7 linked regions of the Homo sapiens genome follow. The protein of the gene in region 5 purifies or fractionates together with the protein of the main gene of each other region. This does not show direct contact. Each region holds a gene or a part of one and is shown on either strand. Other genes may lie near its edges. The genes, in order: SEMA4G, AXL, EPHX4, EPHX1, PCDHB3, CNNM3 and SEMA6B.

Evidence for each region.
Region 1: the proteins of PCDHB3 (region 5) and SEMA4G purify together in Homo sapiens (affinity purification with mass spectrometry; one large-scale study listed by BioGRID and IntAct). This does not show direct contact.
Region 2: the proteins of PCDHB3 (region 5) and AXL purify together in Homo sapiens (affinity purification with mass spectrometry; one large-scale study listed by BioGRID and IntAct). This does not show direct contact.
Region 3: the proteins of PCDHB3 (region 5) and EPHX4 purify together in Homo sapiens (affinity purification with mass spectrometry; one large-scale study listed by BioGRID and IntAct). This does not show direct contact.
Region 4: the proteins of PCDHB3 (region 5) and EPHX1 purify together in Homo sapiens (affinity purification with mass spectrometry; one large-scale study listed by BioGRID and IntAct). This does not show direct contact.
Region 6: the proteins of PCDHB3 (region 5) and CNNM3 purify together in Homo sapiens (affinity purification with mass spectrometry; one large-scale study listed by BioGRID and IntAct). This does not show direct contact.
Region 7: the proteins of PCDHB3 (region 5) and SEMA6B purify together in Homo sapiens (affinity purification with mass spectrometry; one large-scale study listed by BioGRID and IntAct). This does not show direct contact.

The regions. Positions count from the first base shown.
Region 1 is NC_000010.11:100,976,004-100,979,503, forward strand, and holds part of SEMA4G (semaphorin-4G isoform 1 precursor), read left to right. Parts: intron 1-1,628; coding exon 1,629-1,727; intron 1,728-1,816; exon of another isoform or gene 1,817-2,291; coding exon 2,292-2,385; exon of another isoform or gene 2,386-2,523; coding exon 2,524-2,637; exon of another isoform or gene 2,638-2,814; coding exon of another isoform or gene 2,815-2,845; coding exon 2,846-3,015; exon of another isoform or gene 3,016-3,098; coding exon 3,099-3,268; coding exon of another isoform or gene 3,269-3,369; intron 3,370-3,500. Other genes in the region: MRPL43 (large ribosomal subunit protein mL43), read right to left, coding at 2,815-3,008. UniProt on the Homo sapiens protein: Cell surface receptor for PLXNB2. May play a role in axon guidance.
Region 2 is NC_000019.10:41,257,223-41,259,744, reverse strand, and holds part of AXL (tyrosine-protein kinase receptor UFO isoform 1 precursor), read right to left. Parts: intron 2,253-2,522; coding exon 2,116-2,252; intron 193-2,115; coding exon 1-192. UniProt on the Homo sapiens protein: Receptor tyrosine kinase that transduces signals from the extracellular matrix into the cytoplasm by binding growth factor GAS6 and which is thus regulating many physiological processes including cell survival, cell proliferation, migration and differentiation.
Region 3 is NC_000001.11:92,043,485-92,046,984, forward strand, and holds part of EPHX4 (epoxide hydrolase 4), read left to right. Parts: intron 1-2,047; coding exon 2,048-2,176; intron 2,177-3,500.
Region 4 is NC_000001.11:225,837,624-225,841,123, reverse strand, and holds part of EPHX1 (epoxide hydrolase 1), read right to left. Parts: intron 2,471-3,500; coding exon 2,243-2,470; intron 1,908-2,242; coding exon 1,778-1,907; intron 1,296-1,777; coding exon 1,087-1,295; intron 569-1,086; exon of another isoform or gene 1-568. UniProt on the Homo sapiens protein: Biotransformation enzyme that catalyzes the hydrolysis of arene and aliphatic epoxides to less reactive and more water soluble dihydrodiols by the trans addition of water.
Region 5 is NC_000005.10:141,098,999-141,103,272, reverse strand, and holds the start of PCDHB3 (protocadherin beta-3 precursor), read right to left. Parts: upstream 2,801-4,274; 5' UTR 2,624-2,800; coding exon 233-2,623; 3' UTR 1-232. UniProt on the Homo sapiens protein: Potential calcium-dependent cell-adhesion protein. May be involved in the establishment and maintenance of specific neuronal connections in the brain.
Region 6 is NC_000002.12:96,826,268-96,829,767, reverse strand, and holds part of CNNM3 (metal transporter CNNM3 isoform 1 precursor), read right to left. Parts: intron 2,936-3,500; coding exon 2,786-2,935; intron 2,038-2,785; coding exon 1,868-2,037; intron 1,670-1,867; coding exon 1,573-1,669; intron 1,202-1,572; coding exon 1,068-1,201; intron 773-1,067; coding exon 634-772; coding exon of another isoform or gene 476-633; exon of another isoform or gene 1-475. UniProt on the Homo sapiens protein: Probable metal transporter.
Region 7 is NC_000019.10:4,546,185-4,549,684, forward strand, and holds part of SEMA6B (semaphorin-6B precursor), read right to left. Parts: intron 2,262-3,500; coding exon 2,079-2,261; intron 1,990-2,078; coding exon 1,843-1,989; intron 286-1,842; coding exon 208-285; intron 91-207; coding exon 32-90; intron 1-31. UniProt on the Homo sapiens protein: Functions as a cell surface repellent for mossy fibers of developing neurons in the hippocampus where it plays a role in axon guidance.

The sequences.
Region 1 (3,500 bases), on a different chromosome or scaffold from region 5:
AGGCAGGAAAAGCAGTGAGGAGGCTGGGGGCATCATTTGGGTCAGAGGAAGGGGCCTGAGCAGGCTTATGGAGACGGGGGACAGATGGTAGTGGCTTGTACCAGGTGAGGGAGCAGGAGGAGACACAAAGAGGCCTGTATGGATTTAAACCCTGGGTAACAGGCAAGAGGAGGAATCATTAACGTGGCAAAGGAGTCAAGAGGCTGGCAGCTGAGGGCATTTGACAGGCAGAGAAGACCAGTGTGGCTGGAGTAGGGTGAGTGAGACCAGAGGAATGGGCAGAGTCCCATCACACAGGGCTAGGAGCATGTGGGACTCTATATTCAGGTCACTGATGAGCCGATACAGTGGTGTGATCCACTTGACTTTTTTTCAGACATGGTCTCACTCTGTTGCCCAGGCTGGAGTGCAGTGGTTCACTGCAGCCTCGACCTCCTGGGCTCAAACAATTCTCTTGCCTAAGCCTCCCAAGTAGCTAGGACTACAGGTGCATGCCACCACATAGAGATGAGGTCTTGCTATATTGTCCAGGCTGGTCTTGGACTCCTGGGCTCCAGTGATCCTCCCACCTCAGCCTCCCAAAGTGCTGGGATTACAGGTGTGAGCCACCACACCTGGCTAGGTTTACATTTTTAGAATATCCCTTGGAAAGTGGTTGGAGAGTAGCAAAAGTGTGTTGTTTGGTAAAATATCTCTGGAAGGAAACTTCAGACAATAGTAACAGCAGTCTTCTTGGCAGGCAACCTGGGAGACAGGGATAAATGGGAGACTCCCTGTTTATAACATACCCCTTTGTACTTTCTAAGTTTTATACTATGTACATGTATTCATTGACTGAATAAATAGCTTTATAAAGTCGTTTTTATAAAAGAGAAGGTTGGGAGGAGCTATCAGGTAGCAACTGCAGATGTCTAAGGAAGAGGTCATGGTGGTCATTTGGACTGGGTGCTGGTGGTGGAGTCAAAGTGGACCAAGTCAAGAGACTTTTAGGACAATGAATTAATTGTGGAGAGGGACTGAATGTGGGGGTGAGGAAGTAGGAAGCAGCAAGGATGATCCCTGGCTTCTAGGTTGAGTCGTAGGTTGGATGAAGTGAGGTGGGAAAGACTGGATAAACAGGTTTAGGAAAGATGTAGGTTATGGAGGAGGGGATGAACTTGGCTTCTGACAAGGTGAGTTTGAAACATCCCTGGGATATCGGGTGGAGAGCAAGCTGGCATCTAGGGATAGATTTGGTTGTATCACCCCAGCGAGGAGGGCAGGAGTTCCAAGAATAGAAAGAGGTGCTGAGAAGGAGCTGGATGGGAGAGGAGAAGCACCTCAGGATGGTGGAATCCCTGGGAGCTCTTGAACCAGAGGTGGAGGGAACTGCAAGAGACACAGGAGATATTGGCAGAATGGTGTCAGGTAATCTGAGGGACAGAGGAGAGAAATAGGGTCATGTTACTGGGAGGCCAAGGACAGTGAGTTCCAGGAAATATTCTGGAGCAGTGAGAAGGATCACAGGTATCTTGGAAAGAACCGTTTGTCCTGTGGGTGGGGGCAAGAGCCAAACTACAAAGCTAGACTAATGGAGGAGGCTTCTAGTCAGGCAGGGGGCTCACAGCCCTCTCCACCTCATCCCACAGACGGAGTGCTTTAACCATGTGCGGTTCCTGCAGCGGCTCAATTCTACCCACCTCTATGCATGTGGGACTCACGCCTTCCAGCCCCTCTGTGCAGCCATTGTGAGTATACCTGTGTTGTGCCAGATCTCTGTTGACTTCATTAGGGATGGGATCATGTTCAAGATGCCAAAGAAGAGACTCAGAGCCAGTGAAGGAGACGGATGGTTTATTAAGGGGACTTCCATACAGGGCACTCCAGTGGCGGCGGGCTGCACTGGAGAACCATTCCCCTTTGTAAAAACCATGCAGTTTTTATAGCATTTTCACTTAGCATCCTCCCCCTAATCACCTCCACCTGGCAAACTTCATTTAACCCAAAACAAAGGGCCTTGATCCCCTGGACAGCATGTGTTCCACAGGATGGGCTAGGGGCTCAGATGTTCTTCATAGATAAGGAGTGAATCTCTAGGTTGGCCACTTGCAGATTTGGAACTCCAAACATACATTGTTTTGAGGCCATAAGGTCATTCTCAGGGGATGCTTAAGTTATTGCTGTCAGGTGCATCTGCCATACAACCTGCCCCTATCCCTGATCGCTGATCCCTGACCCCAGACTGATCTGACTTTGAGCCACTGTCCCTGCCTGTCTTCGGAACCACTTACTGCTGGTTCCTTGTTCCCTAGGATGCTGAGGCCTTCACCTTGCCAACCAGCTTCGAGGAGGGGAAGGAGAAGTGTCCTTATGACCCAGCCCGTGGCTTCACAGGCCTCATCATTGGTGAGCAGGCCTTCTTCCCTATCACAGACATGGTATTTTTAGGATGTGGATCTCATCTCTAGGACCTGCCACCATGTATATGTCATGTGCCCTGTTGAATATGACATGTCTCTCATGCCTGGAATATCCCCACGCCAGATGGAGGCCTCTACACAGCCACTAGGTATGAATTCCGGAGCATTCCTGACATCCGCCGGAGCCGCCACCCACACTCCCTGAGAACTGAGGAGACACCAATGCATTGGCTCAATGGTTAGGAGGATGAGGCACAGGATGATGGGGGGTAGGGGACTATTTCTTCATTTTTACTCCCTTGGCCAGCTGACCACCCCACCCCCAAATCCCCAGGTGAGCCTGTCCATTCCATTCCTGTGTGTTGTCAAGTGAGGGGTCAGCCTCAGAGTGAGGGAAAGGAATCCCCAGCCTGTCTCAAAAGCCTCTCAAACTGCCTGACCCACAGATGCGGAGTTTGTGTTCTCCGTCCTCGTGCGGGAGAGCAAGGCCAGTGCAGTGGGTGATGATGACAAGGTGTACTACTTCTTCACGGAGCGTGCCACTGAGGAGGGCTCTGGCAGCTTCACTCAGAGCCGCAGCAGTCACCGTGTGGCCCGTGTGGCTCGTGTCTGCAAGGTGGATTGGGCTGACGTTGGGGCACGGGTATAGAGGCTGGACCTCTGACCCTGGCCCCTTATCCCGTGCCTCTACCTCCCCAGGGAGACCTGGGAGGGAAGAAGATCCTGCAGAAGAAGTGGACTTCCTTCCTGAAAGCCCGTCTCATCTGCCACATTCCACTGTATGAGACACTGCGTGGGGTCTGCAGCCTGGATGCTGAAACCTCAAGCCGTACACACTTCTATGCAGCCTTCACGCTGAGCACACAGTGGTCAGTGCAGGGACAATCGGGAGGCAAGAAACTGCGGACAGCATAGGGGCTGGAGCAGAGGTCAATGAGGATGAGATAGGATCCACTGTGGGGAGGTCTGGCTGCAAAGTGAGAATTTTTTTTTTTTTTTAAGAGGGAGTCTTGCTCTGTTGCCAGGCTGGAGTGCAGTGGCGCGATCTCGGCTCACTGCAATCTCCGCCTCCCGGGTTCAAGTGATTATCCTGCCTCGGCC
Region 2 (2,522 bases), on a different chromosome or scaffold from region 5:
GGGTCAGCTCCTCCTGCAGCTCCAGGGGGTTCAGGATAACCTCCACCCTCATCCATGTTGACATAGAGGATTTCGTCAGGCTCCTGGGCAGGAGGCAAGGCCTTCAGTGTGTTCTCCAAATCTTCCCGCAGCTCTGTAAAACTTGGCCGGTCCTGGGGATTTAGCTCCCAGCACCGCGACATCAAGGCATACCTAGGGCAGCAAAATGAGGGGTGGGAGATTGAGCAGGGACTCAGAAGGGGTGCATTCTGGAAGCCTGGGGACATTTTAGGACACTCAGGGGACTGGGGGCATTTTAGAGGGTTATAGGGAGCCTCAGCAGTTTGAGGCCATCTATGGGGATTTGGGAATTCCCAAGAATTTCTGAGTTGGGTCCTGGGAGACTCAGGAGCTGGGAAGGGTCTCGGGAAACCTGTCTGTATATGGAGTAGTATTCTGATGAGGGTTTGCTAGAACAGACCTTCCAGCTCCCCAGAACAGACTTGCATCAAAGCCTGGCTATGCCACTTACAAGCTGTGCTGGTTTAAAATAGGTCCATAAATTCTTTGACCCTCCTCCCTGCAAAAGACGGAGAATAAATCCTCTCCTCTTGAGCATGGGCAGGACTTAGTGACTTGCTTCTGATTTGGCAGAAGTGATGGTGTGTGTGACTTCTGAGACTAGGTCATAAAAGGCATGTGGCTTCCTCGCACTTTCTCCTGGGTTGCCATGTTGTGAGTAAGCTCAAGCAGTGCCACAAAGGGGTCCACATGGCAACGAACTGAAGCCTCCTGCTACAGCCATGTGAGTAAGCCACCTTGAAAGCAATCCTCCAGTCCCAACCTTCAGATGACTGCAGCCCCCAGTGATATCTTTGTAACTTCATTAGAGATCCTGAACCAAAATCACCCTGCTAAGCTGTTCCCAGTATCCAACTTTCAGAAATTGTGTGAGATAATAAACGTTTGTTGTTTTAAACTACTTGATTTGGGGATATAGATAACAAACACACCAGCTGTGCAATCTTTGGCAAATAAATCACCCTCCCAGACTGGGCGTGGAGGCTCATGCCTATAATCCCAGCACTTTGGGAGGCTGGGACGGGTGGATCATGAGGTCACGATATCAAGACCATCCTGGCTAAGGTGGTGAAACCCCATCTCTACTAAAAATACAAAAAAAATTAGCTGGGCATGGTGGCACACGCCTGTAGTCCCAGCTACTTGGGAGGCTGAGGCAAGAGAATCGCTAGAACCTGGGAGGTTGCAGTGAGCCGAGATGGAGCCATTGTGCTCCAGCCTGGGCGACAGAGCGAGACTCAAGTCAATAAATAAAAATAAATTACCCTCCCTGTAGGACTGGGTTTTCTTATCTGCAGAATGGGAATCATAATGATACCTATCTACATCACATGGCTGTGGTAAGGACCAAATGATTTGACACATGCCAGGCACCTAAAACAGTGCCTTCTAGTCAGTTATATGAAAATGTTAGCTGTTATTTTTACTCGTCTCAGCTCTTGGAGTACCCAAGGTGGACTGAGGAGTCTGACGCCCCAGGCTGTCTCCTCCTGACCCAAAGTCATCCTCTCTTTACCCTCAAAGTGCTAGCTAAATGTCACGGCCTTCTCCGCATACTCCAATATTGCAAAGTTTGGTAAGCATTCCCTGAAGGATCCTGCAAATATCTCAGAGGAGACCTGAGTCTGGAGAAGGCCAATAAAACAAACTGAAGGGTTTTGCAGAGAGTCTCAGGTGTTGAGGAGCATGTCGGGGAAGCATGGTGTGCTCAGGAGTCTGGAATGAGAAGTCTCTGGGAGTGCATGTCCCAAAGGCAGGGCCGCCAGGTAAGACTGTGCTGTTATTCACTACCCAAGGATACCTGGCTTGGGGGTGGGGAGCCAGGGGGCTGATTCAGCCCACACAGACAAAGGAGGAAAGGGTGCCTTTAGCTGATTTGCACCCCACTGGTTAGTGATGGCCCTACTCAGAGCATTGGTGAGGGGCAAGTGGGTCACTCAGCATTCTCAGGGATTCTGTCTGGGTTATAGAGAGTCCTGGACCTGTGAGGGCCATCTGGGGGTAGTCAGGGGTTTGGAATGAATTCTGGGTTGGGGGAGACCTAAGGGTCCTCACAGTCCATCCAGACAGTCCGCAGGCTGCTTCAGGCGATTTCCCTGGCGCAGATAGTCATAAATCTCGCTGTTCTCCACGCCCGGATATGGGGTTTGGCCTCTTGTGGCAATCTCCCACATTGTCACCCCGAAGGACCACTGTGAGGGGCAGAGGGAATTAGACAGTCTCTCCTGCACAGAATCACCCGCACCAATACCCAGGTTCATGGGTACACCCACACTTATGTACACATGTTCACAACCATCCTCTGGGAGCATCACAAGTATTCATAGAAACATAATACTTTAGCCGGGTGCGGTGGCTGATGCCTGTAATCCCAGCACTTTGGGAGGCTGAGGTGGGCGGACTGCCTGAGGTCAGGAGTTTGAGACCAGCCTGGCCAATATAGTGAAACCCCGTCTCTACTA
Region 3 (3,500 bases), on a different chromosome or scaffold from region 5:
GTATGCTGTTTATTATTTTGAGAAATAATTATTGAAAAGTTTATACTTAGAAAGTTTATTTCTTTAGAACACACACCTAAATATTCATTTTAAAATGTTATACAGATGCACTTGCATTATTTCTGTTGTATCAATCAGTTAGAACCACATAATATTGTGGAACAAACCACCCCAGATTCGGTGGCATAGGGTCATAACCATTTTTTCCTGTGCTCATGGATCTGCAGGTTAACCGTAGGCTGGACTCCTCTGGTCTTTGCCTCAGGCTGCAGGTCCAGCTGGGACTGGCTTCTCTCTGTGAGTTGGGCTGGAGCCCAAGCTAAAAGGGAGTGGCTGCCTGAGGGAAGCTTTTTTCCTGGCGATGGTAGAGGGTGAGCCCAGGTGCACAAGCTTAAGTTTCTACCGGCAGCCCATTAGTCAAAGCAAGTCATATGGTGGAGCCCAAAGTCAAGCTACATAGCCACCACGAGACCAAAGCAAATCACATGGCCAAGTCTAAAATCAAAGGGGCAGCAAGTAGACTACTGTGACAGCAGGGAGAAGGGGAAAGTAAATATTTTTTAACAATAATCCAATCTATTAATACTATATCCCTTTTGACTGAAACCAAGCTGCTACCATCAGTATGTTAATGGAAGCAATATAGTGAGAAATACCATGAAATCAAAGGCACTTTCTACAGTAATCTAATGAGAGCATGGATCAGGCCAATATTTTTAGGGGAAAAAAAATGAATGGGGTCTGGGGGTGTCACATACAATATTGTCATTTAGTCTGATTACAGTAAAAGAGACTCAGACACTGATTTTGAACAATTATATTTCAAATTTTGTGATAATTCAGTCAGACCTGGCCTAAATTTGTCATCATGAAATTTTTAGGCAAATAATTAATATAAACAAGATTTATGCATGTGTGTTTATGTCTACGTGTGTGTATTAGTATAGTAGTGAGGAGTGATGGTGAGAATTACTTCCTTGAAAGAATTAAGCAATTTTAAGTACTCCAGGAATAAATTACAAATGAATTTTATGCATCCATACAATGGAAATCCTGTAGGAATCTCTATTAATCAACATTTTAACGTACTTTAAATTAACCGAGTGATTACATGAAATGAAACTGGTGCAAAATTGGTGCTATAATTAAGACTTTCCATTACTTCAGTTTGACTTCACAGTTCCAAATTAGTGACAGATTTTCTGTGTTGAATTGTACATAGGATTTGTGAAGTTAGGGAAGAGATAGATGCTTCCTGGAAATAAAGATTTATGAGGTTGGACATAGATGAGACATTTATAATTTTACTATAACTAGAAATTTCTGAGCATTCAAAAAAAAACCAAATAATCTTACTTTTGACTTCATTATGTGCAGTCTTTACCATGGTTTCCAAACTCAGGTCCATGGGACCAGAGCTGAGCAACATAAGCTATTTCAGATGTTTCTTTTGTTTCTTTTGTACCCCCCCACACTTTTTTTCTTTTTTAGAAACAGAGTCTCGGTCTCGCTCTGTCACCCAGGCTGGAATGCAGTGGCATGATCATGGCTCACTGCAGCCTTGAAGTCCTGGGCTCAAGGGATCCTCCCACTCCAGGCTCTACAGTTGCTTGTACTACAGGTGGACACCACCACACCTGGATAATTTCTTTATTTTTTTGTAGAGACGGCTGGGTGTGTGTGTTGGGGGGAGGTCTTGCTATGTTGCCCAGGCTGGTCTCGAACTCCTGGCCTCAAGCAATCCTCCTGCTTTGGCCTCACAAGTGTTGAGATTATAGGTGTGAGTCACCACACCGGCCTATTTCAGATTTTTTTTTTTTTAATATGGATTCCTGGGAGAGATTCTCAATCTATAGGTTTAGAGTGGAGCTATATAGGTGATGTACAGACAAGTTTTGGAACCACTGAATTCAATATCTGCACAAAGTGCATAATTAGGATAAGATAATGAAAAGAGGTACTTCAGAAGTATAACTATTTTATGTGAGGTAACAGTGCACCCACCTGTTTCTTTTTAATGATGTCAACATTTATTTCTTGTTTACAGGGTATAGCAAATGTGTTCTTATTGGCCATGACTGGGGGGGCATGATTGCTTGGCTAATTGCCATCTGTTATCCTGAAATGGTGATGAAGCTTATTGTTATTAACTTCCCTCATCCAAATGTATTTACAGGTGAGTTCAAGTTTTTATCAAAACAGTTCTGCTAATGTGACAATTCACTCTTGCCACTGACCTTTTGGATTAGAAACAGCAAAATTTGGTTACTATCATATTTTAAAATTAAATGACTAAACCATGATAGCACATGACAGTGTCAGATACCTTGGTTTTCAATCTTCCTGGGGAATCTAAGAAAATTTAGCTTTATACTTGCTTACATAATTTTATTCCTTCAAAAAAAGATTTTACTGTTAACTTGGGGAGGGATAAAGGGAAACATACAATGACATTGCTTTGACAGTAATGAATCCTGACAGCCTAGAAATAAATTCTCCTTTTGCTTGACTGCTTTGGCTGTCAGGAATAGCAGTATTCTTTAAAGCAGTTCTCACATTTTTTGGTCTTGGGCTTCTATATGCTCTTAAAATTATTAAAGACCCCATTGAGCTTTTACTTATATGGTTTATAAATATTCACTGTATTGGAAATTAAAATAGAAATTTAAAAATATTTATATGTTAATTCATCAAAAGAAATAAACCATTACATGTTAACATAAATAACATATTTTAAATGAAAGCTAACTACATCTTCCAAAACAAAATTTTAGTGAAAAGAGTGTCATCGTTTTACATTTTTGCAAATCTCTTCAATCTGTTGCAATATGTTGTTTGCATTGAAGTATGTGAGGAAATTTGGCCTCACACAGATCTGTAATTGGAAAAGGGAGGAGTATTTTAATAGCCTTTTCAGATAACTGTGGATTTTCTTTCTTAATACTATACCAAACTTAAAAATTAATGGTTTTGTTTTGTTTCTGTTTTTGTTTTTTTGAGATGGAGTCTCGCTCTGTCGCCCAGGCTGGAGTGCAGTGGCGCCATCTCGGCTCACTGCAACCTCCACCTCCTGGGTTCAAGCGATTCTCCTGCCTCAGCCTCCCGAGTAGCTGGGACTACAGACACCCGCCACCATGCTTGGCTAATTTTTGTATTTTTAGTAGAGACAGGGTTTCGCCGTGCTGGTCAGGCTGGTCTCAAATGCCTGACCTTGTGATCCGCCCGCCTCAGCCTCCTAAAGTGCTGGGATTACAGGCGTGAGCCACCGCGCCCTGCCAATGGTTTCTTAAAGGTAACAATGTGGAATGTGATGGCAAATAAATGATTTTTTAATACTATACTCTATTAAAACCCACAGGTCTCCCTAGCACTTTTATTGTATCTTTTATCCATGCCTGGTTTTGTATCATCATGCATTGTAAGATGTTTGTTCACTGATTTATGCAGATCTTCCATAAGTTGACACATTTCATCATACAGGATCAAAAAATCACATTCTT
Region 4 (3,500 bases), on a different chromosome or scaffold from region 5:
CCCCGAGGGGCATCTGGAGTGTTGGGGCCATGTTGGTGATATGGACGTACTTCACTTGTGAAAATTCTCACCAAAATGTTCACAAGTTCTTTTGAAGGAGAGGGGATGTGGGGAGGGAGAAGAGGTTATATGAGATTGTCTTTAATGTTTTGTACTTTTTGCATTTTTAAGCTTTTTGACAACATGTATTTTATAATCAGAGAAAAATGCTGACTTTTATAAAGTGCCATTATTATGATTATGAGCTGCCTCGTGTGTGTGGGCATGGGTTTGCCATGAAAACTATGAAGAACTTTGAGATGGGCAAGACAATTCCTGGGTGTCTTCTGGACAAGATCTAGGGAGTTACCTAGCAGACCTTCCGGACTGACGTGATGCTACAGGGGTCCCATCTTTCCTTGTCATTGAGCTATTTTACAGTTCTGTGAATTGTAAAGAACTGAGGGTAATGCGAATGACTCTTGTTCATAGAGGCAAATGAATTTTGTCCCATGGAGATTTAATTGATATTACTCTGTGGATGTTGACAAGTTTTGTGTCTGTTAGCAAATTAATTTCAGTGTTCTTATTTGTCTTTGAATTGTTTCTTTTTAAAATTTTACTGGTTCCTTTATAAATTTACCTTTTTGAAAAAGTATTGTCCTTTAACAGGACCCTGGTGGCAGACATGGTTGCTGGGCCCTCCCTCACTGCCTGGGAACCTCTTCCCCAAGGCCCCAGGGCACCCTCTCCCCTCTCCCCTGCAGCCCCAGAGCTGCCCACTCCCAGGATTCCTCCTACCTCACCCCCTCCATCCCTCTGCTTCTCAGTGTAGGATATAGACTCAGGGGTGGGAGATCAGGGGTGAAAGCCACTATGAATACTGAGTCGGCTAAACAGAGTTGCTAAATTGGCCTGGGAATCTGCTGAGGGTCCATCCTCTTGATTCTATGGGAAAATGCAGTTTAAAGATCTAAAGAGCTGGGAGGTCCTTACAAGAGGCTTCCTTCTGTGGGCAGCATTGGGGTGGGGTGGTGAGGTTACCCCGCGGGTGTCTCCCTGCCCCAGTGGAGCCGGCAGTGGGCGAGGACCCCTGAGCACACTCACCTACGGTGTCAGGCTTGGTGCACTGGATGTGCATGTAGCCGCTCTCCCTCATCAGGCTGTAGAATACCTTCTCCTTGACGGGGTACAGCAGCTCCACATCCCTCTCAGTGAGGCCAAGAAACCTCCCGAAACGCTGTCCCAGGAGGAGGGTCAGGGTAGAGAAGTTGCTTAAAACCAAAGCCATGTTCAAGTGCAGGCCTTTCACGTGGCTGAAGGCAGAGAGAGGGGCCGGGGTGAGGCTGGGCTGGTGTCAAGGACAGGGAGAGAGGAGAGATGGCGGAGGAACAGGCCTCAGGGCTGAGGAGCGAGCACAGAGCCAGCCTCTTTCAGCACTGGCCCCACTGGGGAGGCCATGGGAGTTGGAGAAGGGAGGTTGGGGGAAAAATACAGTTTCTGGGGAGTTCTGCTCAGGGCTATCCCAGAGCTTGGTCCAGCAGAGAGGTCTAATGCCTGACCTTCCCCTCCTATCACAGGCCTTCTCTGCCTGGGAACCTGACCCAGAGCCGCAACCCTGGGTTACAGACAGGAGGATCCAAGTCAACGTGCCTCAGGCACTGCTGAGTGACAGGTCACACTCCCTCCTCTCCCCTGGGGGGTCCTTGGCCCACCCTGCACACAGGTCCACTTCTTAGAGGACACACACACACACACACACACACACACACACACACCACCCCAACAGTGACCTCACCTGGGCACCAGCTGGGCCATATTAGTGCAGATCAGGGACCCCCAGTCCCCTCCTTGAATGTAGAATTCCTGGAAGCCCAGCCGCAGCATCAGCTTGTAAAAGATCCTGGCGGTGGCCACCGAGTTGAACCCTGGCAGTGATGGGGAAAGGCATGGAGTCACGGAGTCACAGGCAGATTGCTCCTTGGGCCCTCTGGTGTTCTATGAAATTTCTCAGGCCCGCCTACCCCCAGGTGGAGGTCAGAAAAGCTCACAGAGGCAAGAAGGAATCCTGGAGCCCAAATATAGGGGTGGCATCTCCAGCCCCGGAGGGCGGTGTGTCTGGGGCCGGCCTCTCAGGCCCCTCCTTTCCCAGCTTCCTCGGGCCAACTCCCTGCTCACCCCGCCGGAAGGAGAGCCTGGTGGGAACACCGGGCCCACCCTTGGCGAGGACGGGGCAGTTATGGAACCTCTAGCAGCCCCGTACCCTTCTTGGAGGATGCCTCTGAGAAGCCATAGCCAGGGATGGAAGGGCAGATGACTTCAAAAACGTGCTCATCGCTCAGGCCATGGTTCTTGGGGTCAGTCAGGAGTGGGATGATCTTATAAAACTCGTAGAAAGAGCCGGGCCAGCCGTGCACCATCAGCAAGGGCTTCGGGGTATGGCCTGCGGGCAGCTGGGGGGGCTTCACGTGGATGAAGTGGATGTCCAGCCCTGGGGGGACAGAGCACAGTCAGGGTGGAGGGAGAGAGAAGACCCTGCACGGTCAGGCTCTGGCACCCCCCAGAGCCTAGATATTGAGTCCTGCCACCCTTAGTGCCCCCGCCGCCCCTTCATGGTATTGACAGTAATAAGGGCTGACACTGGTTTCACACTCACACTGTGCTCCAGGTGCACAGATGTCCTCACTCAGCCTTCACAACCTCCCTGCAAGGGAGCTACGATTATTGCCTCCCGGTTTCCTTAGAGGTGCCCCCTGACAGCTGGGCCAGGTCTGTACAGCCACTGCTGGGTTTCCAGGGCTCAGGACAGCTCCTGGCTCACAGCAGGCCTCCATAAATACTTGTTCAATAATTTAAAATCTGGAGGGTAGGGAGAAAGCCCCACGTATCCAGCAATACAGGATTAATCAAGTATAGTTTGACAGTATACTGGAGTCCAGTACAGTCATCTAAACTGACAAGGTAGATGTATATTTATTTAACATAGAAAACTGATCAGAAGATATTGCTGGGAGGTAAAAGCAAATGATCAAGTCATATCCATTGTGTGACCCAGTTTTTATAAAAAGTCATCTATGCTTATACTGTACTTATACTATGTATTGGTGAATTTTAAAAGTCTGGGAGGATAAACTCCAAGAATGTAAAAAGCAGTTCTCCTGAGCAGTAGATTCCAGTGCTTTTAATTTCTCTTTGAGTTTTATGTACTTTCCAATTTTTCTACAATGAACAGGTATTAAATGCATAATTTTTTTCATACACATTGACAAAATGTCACCTTTTTCTGATTACCAAATGATATTTTCTTTAAAGTGGAGTATTTTTGGGCCTGGTGTGGTGGCTCACGCCTGTAATCCCAGCACTTTGGAAGGCTGAGGCGGGTGGATCACCTAAGGTCAGGAGCTCAAGACCAGCCTGGCCAACATGGTGAAACCCCGTCTCTACTAAAAATACAAAAAAATTACCCGGGCATGCTGACAGGCGCCTGCAATTCCAGCTACTCGGGAGGCTGAGGCAAGAGA
Region 5 (4,274 bases):
AAAATGTTCTATCGACTAAGGATTCTCGATTGAAATACAAAACATTCAGAGCCACACAACTACTTTCCAGTACTGTTAATGAAACCTAAGCCATCCCTGGATTTGATATTTTGCTCTATTCTTGCTACTTGCCTTGAACCAGACCAAAAAAGACCTCTCCAATGGACAAAGCAGTAAAAAAGGACTTTCCACAGATTAACTAAGACGAGGCTCAGTAGATCCTTATTAACACTTAACTGAATTCAAAGCTCTTCCTGAAACTGGGATTTGCCTCGCTAACCCTCTCTGCACCCTGAGCAACGAAGTTGGGGATAATTGGCTTCAGGAACTTGAACTCATTTGTCCCGGAGCCTCCAGTCAGACACACCTCGTACTGGTAGCTCTGGGACAGGGTCCCGGTGCCGCTCACGTCCACCATCTGCCCTGGAAAGGGGCCCTCGGGCACCGAGCAGCGACCCACCGAGGCCGCCCTGCTCCTCCTGCACAGCCGCACCGCCACGAACAGGAGCACCGAAAAGAGGAAGAGCGAAGACACCGAGGCCAATGCCACCACCAGGTAGACGGTGAGCAAGTCGGCCTGGGCCTGGGCCGGTGCCGCCTCCGGGAGAGGCAGGTAGGGCTGGGAGAAGCCGTCCACCAGGAGCACATGCAGCGTGGCGGTGGCCGAGCGCGGAGGCTCGCCATTGTCCTTGACCAGCACCACCAGCCTGTGCTTGGCCGCGTCGCGCTCGCTCAGCAGCCTGGCGGTGCGCACTTCGCCATTGTGCGCCCACACGCCGAACAGCCCGGGCTCCGTGGCCTTGAGCAGCTGGTACGACAGCCAGGCGTTCTGGCCCGAGTCGCCGTCCACCGCCACCACCTTGGTCACCAGGTAGCCCGGCTCAGCCGCCCGGGGCACCAGCTCGGTGCAGGGCGCGGAGCCGTTCTGCAGCGGGTACAGCACGAAGGGCGAGTTGTCGTTGGCGTCCAGCACCAGCACGCGCACCAGCGCCTCGCTGCTCAAAGCCGGGGAGCCACGGTCTGTGGCGCCCACGCGGAACTCGAACGCCTGCAGGGCCTCGTAGTCCAGCGACCTGAGGGCAAACAGGTGGCCGTTGTCCGCGTTGATGGAGACCAGGGAAGAGAGGGGCAGGTGCGGGTCCTGGGGCGGCAGCAGCGAGTAGGTTACCTGGGCGTTGGTGCCTGAGTCTCTGTCTGTGGCGCTGACACTGCCGATGTGCAGGGCGGGGCTGTTGTTCTCGCGGACGAACAGGGTGTAGGAGATTTGGGTGAAGGCGGGGGCGTTGTCATTGACGTCGGAGACCAGCACGGTTATGTTGTACTTGGTTTTCAGCCTGGGTGTCCCCAGGTCAGTGATAGTGATGGTAATGTTGTACTCGGATCTGGTCTCTCTGTCCAGCGCGCCTTCTGACACTAGGGTGTAAAAATTCTCTACAGATGGTTTCAGGAAGAAGGGGAGATTGTTCTCAATGGAACACATCACTCTTCCGTTGTCTCCAGAGTCTAGATCAGAAACACTGAAAACAGCCAGTACAGTCTCTCCCGAGTTCTCAGGAATAGGGCTGTTTACTGAAGACAAGGTCAGTTCCGGTGGGTTGTCGTTGACATCAACCACCTGGACTATGACTGTAGACTTTCCGGATAGGCCTCCGCCATCCTTGGCCTCGATGTCGACTTCATAACTATTAATCGCTTCAAAATTCAAATATTTGACCAGTTGCATATCACCAGTAATTGGATTTAGCTGAAAAGTTTTGCGAATTTCTTCAGAAGCATGAAAAAATGCATATGATATTGTCCCAAAACTTCCTGTATCTAAGTCAGAAGCCGAGACAGTGACAATGACAGAGTTAACGGGGGTATTCTCTAGAACTGCAACCTCATAGAGCGGCTGTGCAAATTCTGGTGCATTGTCGTTTATATCTAAGACCTGGATGTTTATCTGGGCTGTCCCAGACCGAGGGGGAGAGCCGCCGTCCAGCGCGGTGAGCGTTAAGCTGAGTTCCGGCTGCTCCTCCGGATCGAGCGCTTTATCCAGTACTAGTTCCGGGTACTTCCTTCCGTCCCTACGACTGCGAGTGAGTACGTGGAAGTGGGAATTCGGAGTGATAGTGTAGTTTTGGAGGCTGTTTCTTCCCACATCCAAGTCCTCAGCATTTCCCAAAGGAATTACTGTTCCTGGCAGAGTGCTTTCTAGGATTTTCAGATGCATTTCATTTTCAAAGAATACCGGAGAATGGTCATTTACATCTATGATACGGAGCTCGTTTGTAACGAATTGCAAAGGGTTTTGCAGTAATATCTGAAAATGTAGTATGCATGGTTCTGTGGGGCCGCATAGCTCCTCCCGGTCCAATTTCTCATTCAGGAGCAAATCACCTGTCTGATGACTGAGCTGAAAATGCTGTTTGTTCCCTTTGGACACAACTTGGGCCCCCCTCGCGGCCAGTTCCTCTACCCTTAGTCCCAGATCCTTTGCTAGGTTGGCTATTAAAAAGCCCTTCTCTTTTTCCTCAGCCACAGAATAGCGTCTTGACTCGGACCCAGCCAGAGACCCTCCCAGAAAAACAAAGAGAAGCAAGACTTGCCTTTGTCTAAGAAATCGCTCTCCTCCCGCCTCCATTGCACTTTCCGTCACGCTCTTCCAGGGAATGTCGCCAAGCTGAACCTCAGACAGAGCTGGGAAACAGTCTTTTGCCCCACAACCTTTGTAGACGGCCTAGTGAATAAGCCTTTCCAGAGGCTCAGACTTGCTGGCTCAAAAATCTGCCTGGGCTCTCAACCGCTGGTTTACCACACTGGATCCGTGCGTCACCGAGCATGCACAATGCCTGTGGTTTAATTCGCCTTCTTAGTCAACAGCGCCACCATGCGTTCGCTTGCAGTTACAAAATCTTGGAGAAGGTGTTTTTATTTTGCTTTATCGATTATTCTTATCAACCCTAGTTGACGCTACTGGAGGAGTTTCTCATGTTATATGAATTAAATAAATGCAATCTAGGGAAATAAAATGCACTTTTATCTACGAGCAGCGATTCTTCCTGGTAGAGTCCTCATTTACACGATTTAACGGAAGTGTACACATACTAGTTTACCCCTCCCCTTTTGTAATAATTACACACAAACTTCAAAAGATTTTTGCTCTAGATGATAGCATGCTTCACTATCCTATTTATGTTTTTCTTTTTTTCCTAAACTTTGTGAAATGAGCCCGAATTGCATATACCAGAAAAACACAAGGAAAAGACACCTCCTGCAAGGTGGTAAAAAAGAAAATATATCATGTCAGAGGTGGATCCAGAGGACTACAAATACCTAATTTCTTCCAGATTATCATGCTCAAGGAACACTTAAAGTGCTTTCTCTTCTTATTTCAGAGCAAATTTACAATTATTCATTTCATCTGTATTAGTTTATTTCCACAGATAATTGTTGAGTTTGTAGAAGTTAGGCAAGTGGTGGTAACAAGACAATGTCTGTATATCTTACAACAATTTTCCATCTAGTGGGTGTACAGTCTTTAAACAGATGTTTAAACAGTGTGAAAAGTGCTACATAGAAAAGGTACTGAGTGCACTGAAAGTATGCAATACGGGGACCTAACTTAATGGAGAGTGATTAAGAAAGTTTCCCCCAAGGTGCACCATTTAATCTGAAACATGAAATAGGAGAAGTGTGCCAGGCTAAGACTGTAGAATGTGTGAAGGCCCTGAGAGAGCAAAGCATAGCTATTAATAGATAATGAATGAAGTACAGTGAATACAAAACTTAATGTCTCAAGAGTAAGTGGAAAGGAAGGCTGAAAAGGTAAACCAAGGCCAAATAATGGGCGCTTGGATTTTATTATTCTAAGAACAAAAGGAAGCCATTGCAAGGTTGTTGGTACAGAAATAAAACAGTGCAAATATGTGTTCAATGTAGCCGCTTTTGTACTTCTACACAATTATCAAGAATGTTTGCTCTTAATACTAGTGATACTAAAAATAACAGCAATTTCACTTTTATGTCTTTATATTGAGTATAACTGCAAGCTATTCAAATACCTGCTATCATTTGGGTAGAAGAAAAGAAACTTTGTGACTCATCCAAAATCCTACAGGTAATGAGTTGGTTGATCAGAGACTTTTGATACCAACACAGCGCTCTACACCATTGCTAATCTCAAAACAAGACCTTCAAAGTTAATATTAAAATTTTAATAGGATAGCTCATTCAAATGTATGTAAAAATGATATAAAAATATAAAGATAGACTGAGTAACATTAAGAATTAAG
Region 6 (3,500 bases), on a different chromosome or scaffold from region 5:
ATCTCTGATTAAGTCAATCCATTCTAAGACGTCCTTGAGAGAAATACCGACTTACTATACTCTACTCTAAATACCAGTTAGTCTATAGTTTGGTGTCATCCATGCTATTAAAGACAGCAAGAAGTTCAAGTTGAATAATGAATTAAAAAAAAAAAAAGCAAGAAGGGGGTTGGGCACAGTGGTTCATGCCTGTAATCCCAGCACTTTGGGAAGGTGAGGCAGGCGGATCATCTGAGGTCAGGAGTTCAAGACCAGCCTGGCCAACATGGTGAAACCCCATCTCTACTAAAAATACAAAAATTGGCCAGGCGTGGTCGTGGGCGCCTGTATTCCCAGCTACTCAGGAGTCTGAGACAGGAGAACTGCTTGAACCCAGGAGCCGGAGGTTGCAGTGAGCCGAGATCACACCATTGTACTCCAGCCTGGGCAACAGAGCAACAGAGTAAGACTCCATCTCAAAAAAAAAAAAAATTATTTATATATAGATATATATATATAAAGAAGGGAAAAGGATGGGGAGAAAAGAGAGAAAAAAGACAGAGGGTGGGGGGGCGGCGAGAGTGCAAGTCTGTGTGTGTGAGCTCACGGCCCTCAGGTCCAGACACCATGCACGATGTACCACTTGGCACTCACCTGCCGCTGTGGTGGTCTTCTCACCAAGGAGCCTGGTCTGGCTGCCTGGAATAACCTGCAGGTCGGTGTTCTCAGGGGACTGTGGCAGGTTCTGGGCTCGGGTAGCCAGGAGTGCATTGAGGTACTGCAGTCGCGTAACCTGGAGGATGACAGCGTTACTGGGACCCAATTGGTGAAGCGAGATGCAGAAGGTAGGCAGGAAAGGTGACACCGTGCCCGAAGAGGACAGAGGCACAACTTTAAGCTAGTTAAGGGCAGAGAAGAGCAACTGAGTCAAGTGTTTTTAAGACCTTGCTTGGAAACTGGGTGCAAAGGTCTGTGTCCCTCAGGATGAGTGGAAGGCCTTGTTCCGGGCAGTCTCAGACCAGCTGGTCTAGCCCCCGGTGACACAAAGTCGGCTAAAGCCAGCACCCACAAGCAGCCCAGGCAGTCACCTTGATGAGCTGCAGATCAGAGAGCGCCCTCACGGTGTAGTCGGGACAATACGCAGATGAATGCGTGCCGTCACCTGGGTCGGGCTGCAGGTCATGGCGGATGGGCTGGAGCGAGGACACCGGGGACTGGTGAACTATCAAAGGAACAATCAGTGATGGCAGGAGCCATGCTGGCAGCTGGGAGCCTCCTCCCCTGGTGGGGACAACTGTACAGTTTCGAAGACCCACCCCACCAATCACTCTGGAGAGGCAATGTGCATGGGAAGCTGGGAGAGAAGGACAAACACAGCCGGGAGAGGTTTTGCAGGGGTGGAGTGGGCCACAAAGTTGAGCGATGAAGAATGCTGCCCTCCCTCCTGGAAGCCCAGGGGCTACACCACCTTGTGGGGTGGTGGGCTCAGGTGGAAGGAGAGGTGAGGAGGGGCACTGAGAGCCCAAGTGATGATGGGGGACAGGCTCTGCAGCCTCCACCCTGGCCCTCAGCATCAGCAGGGCCGTGGCTTACCCGAGGATGGCACAGTTAGGGCCGACACTCCATAGTACGTGAAGGCCCCATTCTCAAACTTCAGACCCTCTTTCCCGATCTCCACTTCAACCCTGCCCTGGGAGGAGTGGCAAGGAGAGAAACAGATGCGGCCAGATTACCTTTCCCGTCAGAAGACAGCGGAAGGAGAAACCCACCACCTCAATTGTTTGGGGTGGGAGGGTGCATATCCGCATGCCCCTGCTCCCCTCTTCTCCTAGACCCTTCCCTGGCCTGAGGAAGCAGGAGGGACTCCAGGCCTGGGACCCACAGCTACCTGCAGGATGAGAATGAAGTAATCCACCGGCTGGCTGCGCTGGTACAGGTAGTGGTGTGTGGCCAGCCGGTTGCTCTCGTCAAACCTCACTTCCTGGTTGACACTGGGATGCTTCAACAGGTGCAGCAGGACCTTCTCAGAGATGCGCAGCGGGCTGAATACATCCACTTCTGCACGTGGTGGAAAAAAGGGACAGTGTCCACTGGGGCCTAGTGGCCAGTGGAACCACACCCAACACTGTAGGCAATTTAAAGTTATTGTGCCCACCAGGGATCTCCCGGGTGGCCTGTGAGCAGCTGCCCCTAACACCTCAACACAAGAGAACTAGGCAGGGGCCAGGTGCGGTGGCTCACGCCTGTAATCCCAACACTTTCGGAGGCTGAGGCAGGTGGATCACCTGCAGTCAGGAGTTGGAGACCAGCCTGGCCAATATGGCAAAACCCCGCCTCTACTAAAAATACAAAAATTAGCTGGGCGTGGTGATACACGCCTGTAATCCCAGCTACTTGGGAGGCTGAGGCAGGAGAATCACTTGAACCCAGAAGGCGGAGGTTGCAGTGAGCCAACATCGTGCCACTGCACTCCAGCCTGGGTGACAGAGCGAGACCCTATCTTTAAAAAAAAAAAAAAAAAAAGAACTGGGCAGGGCACCCCACATCCGCCCAGCTGAGAGCTGAGGCCCCCTGGCTGTGGTGCACCAGGCGTGGCACTGGCCTGGCCCTGCTCTTGGTCATCTGGCAGAGAGGAGGTGTCTCTCCCATGACCCAAGATGCTGGCAGGGCTGCAGAGAACACAGAAGTCCTCAAGACGCACCCGCCTGCTAGGAGTGGGGAGCAGAGTCAGTGTCGGCCCTGGGCGGCCTCCTGACCCACAGAACGGTGAGGAGAGCAGGGGGCATGGACCACCCTCCCGCCTCACCTCGGGACAGGAAGCGCTGGGTGGCCAAGAGCAGCTGAGGCGAGATTGTTACTTTATATTCATCATCAGACACCTTGAACAAGGAGAACTCCTCCTTCCGCTTCAGAGGGGCCATCAGAGAAGCAGGCTTCCTCTTCACCACGGTGTCTCCTAAGATGGAAGAAGAGGGCGCGCTCAGGCATCAGCCACCTGTCAGTCAACACGACCACACTAAGGGGCTGCATCGCCTGCTCCTTCCTCCTGAGGCCAGGGGGTCCTCGATGGAGCAGCATCGGAACGCCAGGGACATGTCCTCAGCACCGCTCCCTCCACGGGGCCTGCTCCCACCCCAACCACACAGAGAGAGGGGTGACTATCTGCCTTGGAGCTGGCTGAAGAGAATGCTGATATGATAACAAAGCAGCTTGTATAAAATAACAAGCATCCCTGATAGGTCACTGGATGTAGACTAAAAACTTTTTTAAATTTAGGCCAGATGTAGTGATTCACACCTGTAACCCTAGCACTTTAGGAGGCTGAGGCGGGAGGATCACTTAAGGCCAGAAGTTCAACACCAGCCTAGGCAACATAGAGAGACCGTGTCTTTACAAAAAAATAAAATAATTAGACGGGTGTGGTGGCATGCGCCTGTAGTCCCAACTGCTCAGGAGGCTGAGGTGGGAGGAACACTTGAGTCTGGGAAGTTGAGGCTGCAGTAAGCCATGAATGCGCCACT
Region 7 (3,500 bases), on a different chromosome or scaffold from region 5:
GGGGTCTTAGCCTGCCGTCCCCCCAACTCACCTGTGCAGTCCCCTAAGCCTGAGGTGCTGGCCCCGGACACGTCCTGCTCAAAGGCGGCTCTAATGGGGAGAGGAGGCACCGTCAGCAGAGGCCCCTCTCACAGTCAGAGATCAGGGGGATCTGGGATCATGGGCGGGTCTGACACACCCTCCACCCACCTCCCTCTCCCGCAGTACCTGGTGCCCGGGCTGAGGAAGATGCAGGAGCCGTCGGGGGCCCACCCGCAGTAGGGGTCCTGACTGCCGATACAGTTCCTAGAGCAGACCAGGGACCGAATGGGACAAGTGTCCAAGTCACTTACACAACCCCAATGGTGATGGTGACCTGTGGGCCCTGTTCCAAGCACCTGCCTCTTTATTTTTATTTTAATTAATTAATTTTTGAGACGGAATTTCGCTCTTGTTGTTTATTTATTTAGTTATTTTTGAGATGGAATTTCGCTCTTGTCGCCCAGGCTGGAGTGCAGTGGCGGGATTTTGGTTCACTGCAACCTCCGCCTCCCGGGTTCAAGCGATTCTCCTGCCTCAGCCCCCCGAGTAGCTGGGATTACAGGCACGCGCCACCATACTTAGCTAATTTTTGCATTTTTATCAGAGACAGGGTTTCACCAGGTTGGTCTTGAACTCCTGACCTCAAGTGATCCACCCGCCTCGGACTCCCAAAGTGGTGGGATTACAGGTGTGAGCCACCACGGCTGGCGTTTTCTTATTTTAAAATTAAAAAAATTTTTTTAAATTAAAATTTAATTTTTTTTTTCTTTAAGAGACAGGGTCATGCTCTGTCACCCAGGCTGGAGTACAGTGTCATGATCATAGTTCACTGCAGCCTCAACCTCCCAGGCTCAAGTGATCCTCCTGCCTCAGCTTTCTGGGTAGCTGGGACCACAGGTGTGTGCCACCACGCCCAGCTGATTTTTGCATTTTTTTTTTTTTTAGAGACAGGCTCTCACTATGCTGTGTTGCCCAGGCTGGTCTCGAACTCCTCGGCTCAAGGAGTCCTCCTGCCTTGGCCTCCCAAGTGCTGGGATGACAGACGTGAGCTACCAAGCCCAGTCCCTCTTCTTAATAGCAACTTCTGGAGTCCTTAGAACAAATCTGTGTGCAGGGCACTGTTCACTCCCCACTTTACAGATAAGCAAACTGACGCTCCAGAAAGTAAATGTTTGCCCAAGTGGCAGAGCTGAGATGGGAGCCCAGGCATCGTGCCAGAGGCTGTGCCCTTGGACTCGGAGCTACTGGGTCATTGTTGCAATAACGGCGGGCAGGAAGCAGGGTCCTCCGCATTGACGGCTCACATGGAGTGCAGGCGTGTGCCAGCACTGGCATGCATCCTAGCTTTCCTCCCATTTTAGAGACGGGGAAACAGCCTCCACCCTGGTCCCTGGTTCTCCTTCCCCTGCAGTCTCCTCCTGGCAGCAGCCACCAGAGGGCACCTGTAAGCACCTGAGTCAGGGCCAGTCCCTCCTCTGCCTGCAACCCTACATGGCTCCCATCTCCTTCAAGGTCAAAGCCCAAGTCCTCCCCGAGGCTCACAAAGCTCTGCACAAACTGCCTCGTCCTCTCCCATCCCCTCCCCGTCCTCCCCTCCTCCCTCACTCCCCCTTGCTCACTGTGCTCCAGCCACACCGGCCACCTTGCTGTTCTTCCAACACACCAGGAGTGGTCCTGCCCGCGGGCCTTTGCACGGGCCATGCCCTCTGCCCAGCTCAATGACCAGGACATCATTGGGCTTTTGACTGGAACCCAGCTGTCCCTCCCTGTGCCCATCCTCCCTTGCTTCCCGCCCACGGCTGGCCTGGGGTGGACACTCACTTCATACACCCCGAGTACTGCTGGCAGCGAGCCACAGGCACTCGGACCACGCAGCGGGGGAAGGCAGCCAGCAGGCCCCCCGAAGCTGCGTCCAGCTCCAAGCTCAGCAGCCGCTGCCCTGTCTCGCCACCGCCGGGCCGTCCACACCTGGGGACAAGCAGAGTGGTGAGGCTGAGCGCATCTCAGCCCATCTCCCCTCCTGCTGGCGACCCCTTCCCACCTTTGCCCAGACTTACCTGTCCGGCCGGTAGGTCTCAAACTCCTCCAGGAAGACACTGAGCCCAGACGTCCCTGAGGTGCTGGCATTGGGCCGGACGAGGAACTTGAGGACCGTCCCCGCCTCAGAACCCAGGAAGACAACGGTCTGGTTGCCCCAGGGGCCGGCTCCCACGTCCACAGCCACTCGAGTCAGCTGGTGCCTGGGGGACAGGGCAGGGGAGGGTCAGGCTGGCCCCATATCACCACATGCCACCAACACGGGCATGGCCATAGTTACACGGGTGCATACAGACACTGACACACCAACACATGTGACAGCAATAAATGCGTGTGTGCATGGATGCCGGGGACATGCGTGACTACACAGGCACGTGGGCACACTCGCCCTTTTTTGAAACATAACCCCAAACCAGGCTCTCCTCAGCCCTGTCTCTTTGGTTGAGATGGAGTCTCACTCTGTCACCCAGGCTGGAGTGCAGTGGCGCAATCTCAGCTCATTGCAACCTCCGCCTCCCGGGTTCAAGCAATTCTCTTGCCTCAGCCTCCTGAGTAGCAGGGACTACAGGCACACGCCATCACGCCTGGCAAGTTTATGTTTTGTTTTTTTTGAGACAGAGTCTCACTCTGTTGCCCAGGCTGCAGTGTAGTGGCTCGATCTCGCCTCCTGGGTTCAAGCGATTCTCCTGCCTCAGCCTCCCAAGTAGCTGGGACTACAGGCGCACACCACCACACCGAGCTGATTTTCTTTTTTTTGTATTTTTAGTAGAGACAGGGTTTCACCATTTGGCCAGGCTGGTTTCAAACTCCTGACCTCAAGTGATCCTCCCGTCTTAGCCTCTCAAAGTGCTGGGATTACAGGCATGAGCCACTGTGCCCAGCCCCGCTTTCTCCTGATATGTATGTGTGTCTGTGTATCTTTCAGTCTCTTTCTCTCTTTGTCTCTCTTCCCTATCTCTGTCTCTCTGGGTGTCTGTCTGTCTCTGATTGTCTCTCTCCCTGTCTCTCTGTCTCTTTCCCCCTTTGTTCTCCTGGTGTGTGTCTGTCTGTCTACCTCTTTTTTTTTTTTTTTTTTTTTGAGGTGTAGTCTCCCTCTGGCCCCAGGTTGGAGTGCAGTGGCGTGATCTCGGCTCACTGCAACCTCCGCCTCCCGGGTTCAAGTGATTCTCCTGCCTCAGCCTCCCGAGTAGCTGGGACTACAGGCGCCCACCACCACGCCTGGCTAATTTTTGTATTTTATTTTATTTTATTTTTGAGACGGAGTTTCGCTCTTTCGCCCAGGCGGGACTGCAGTGGCGTGATCTTGGCTCACTGCAAGCTCCGCCTCCCGGGTTCATGCCATTCTCCTGCCTCAGCCTCCTGAGTAGCTGGGACTACAGGCGCCTGCCACCACGCCCAGCTAATTTTTTGTATTTTTAGTAGAGACGGGGTTTCACTGTGTT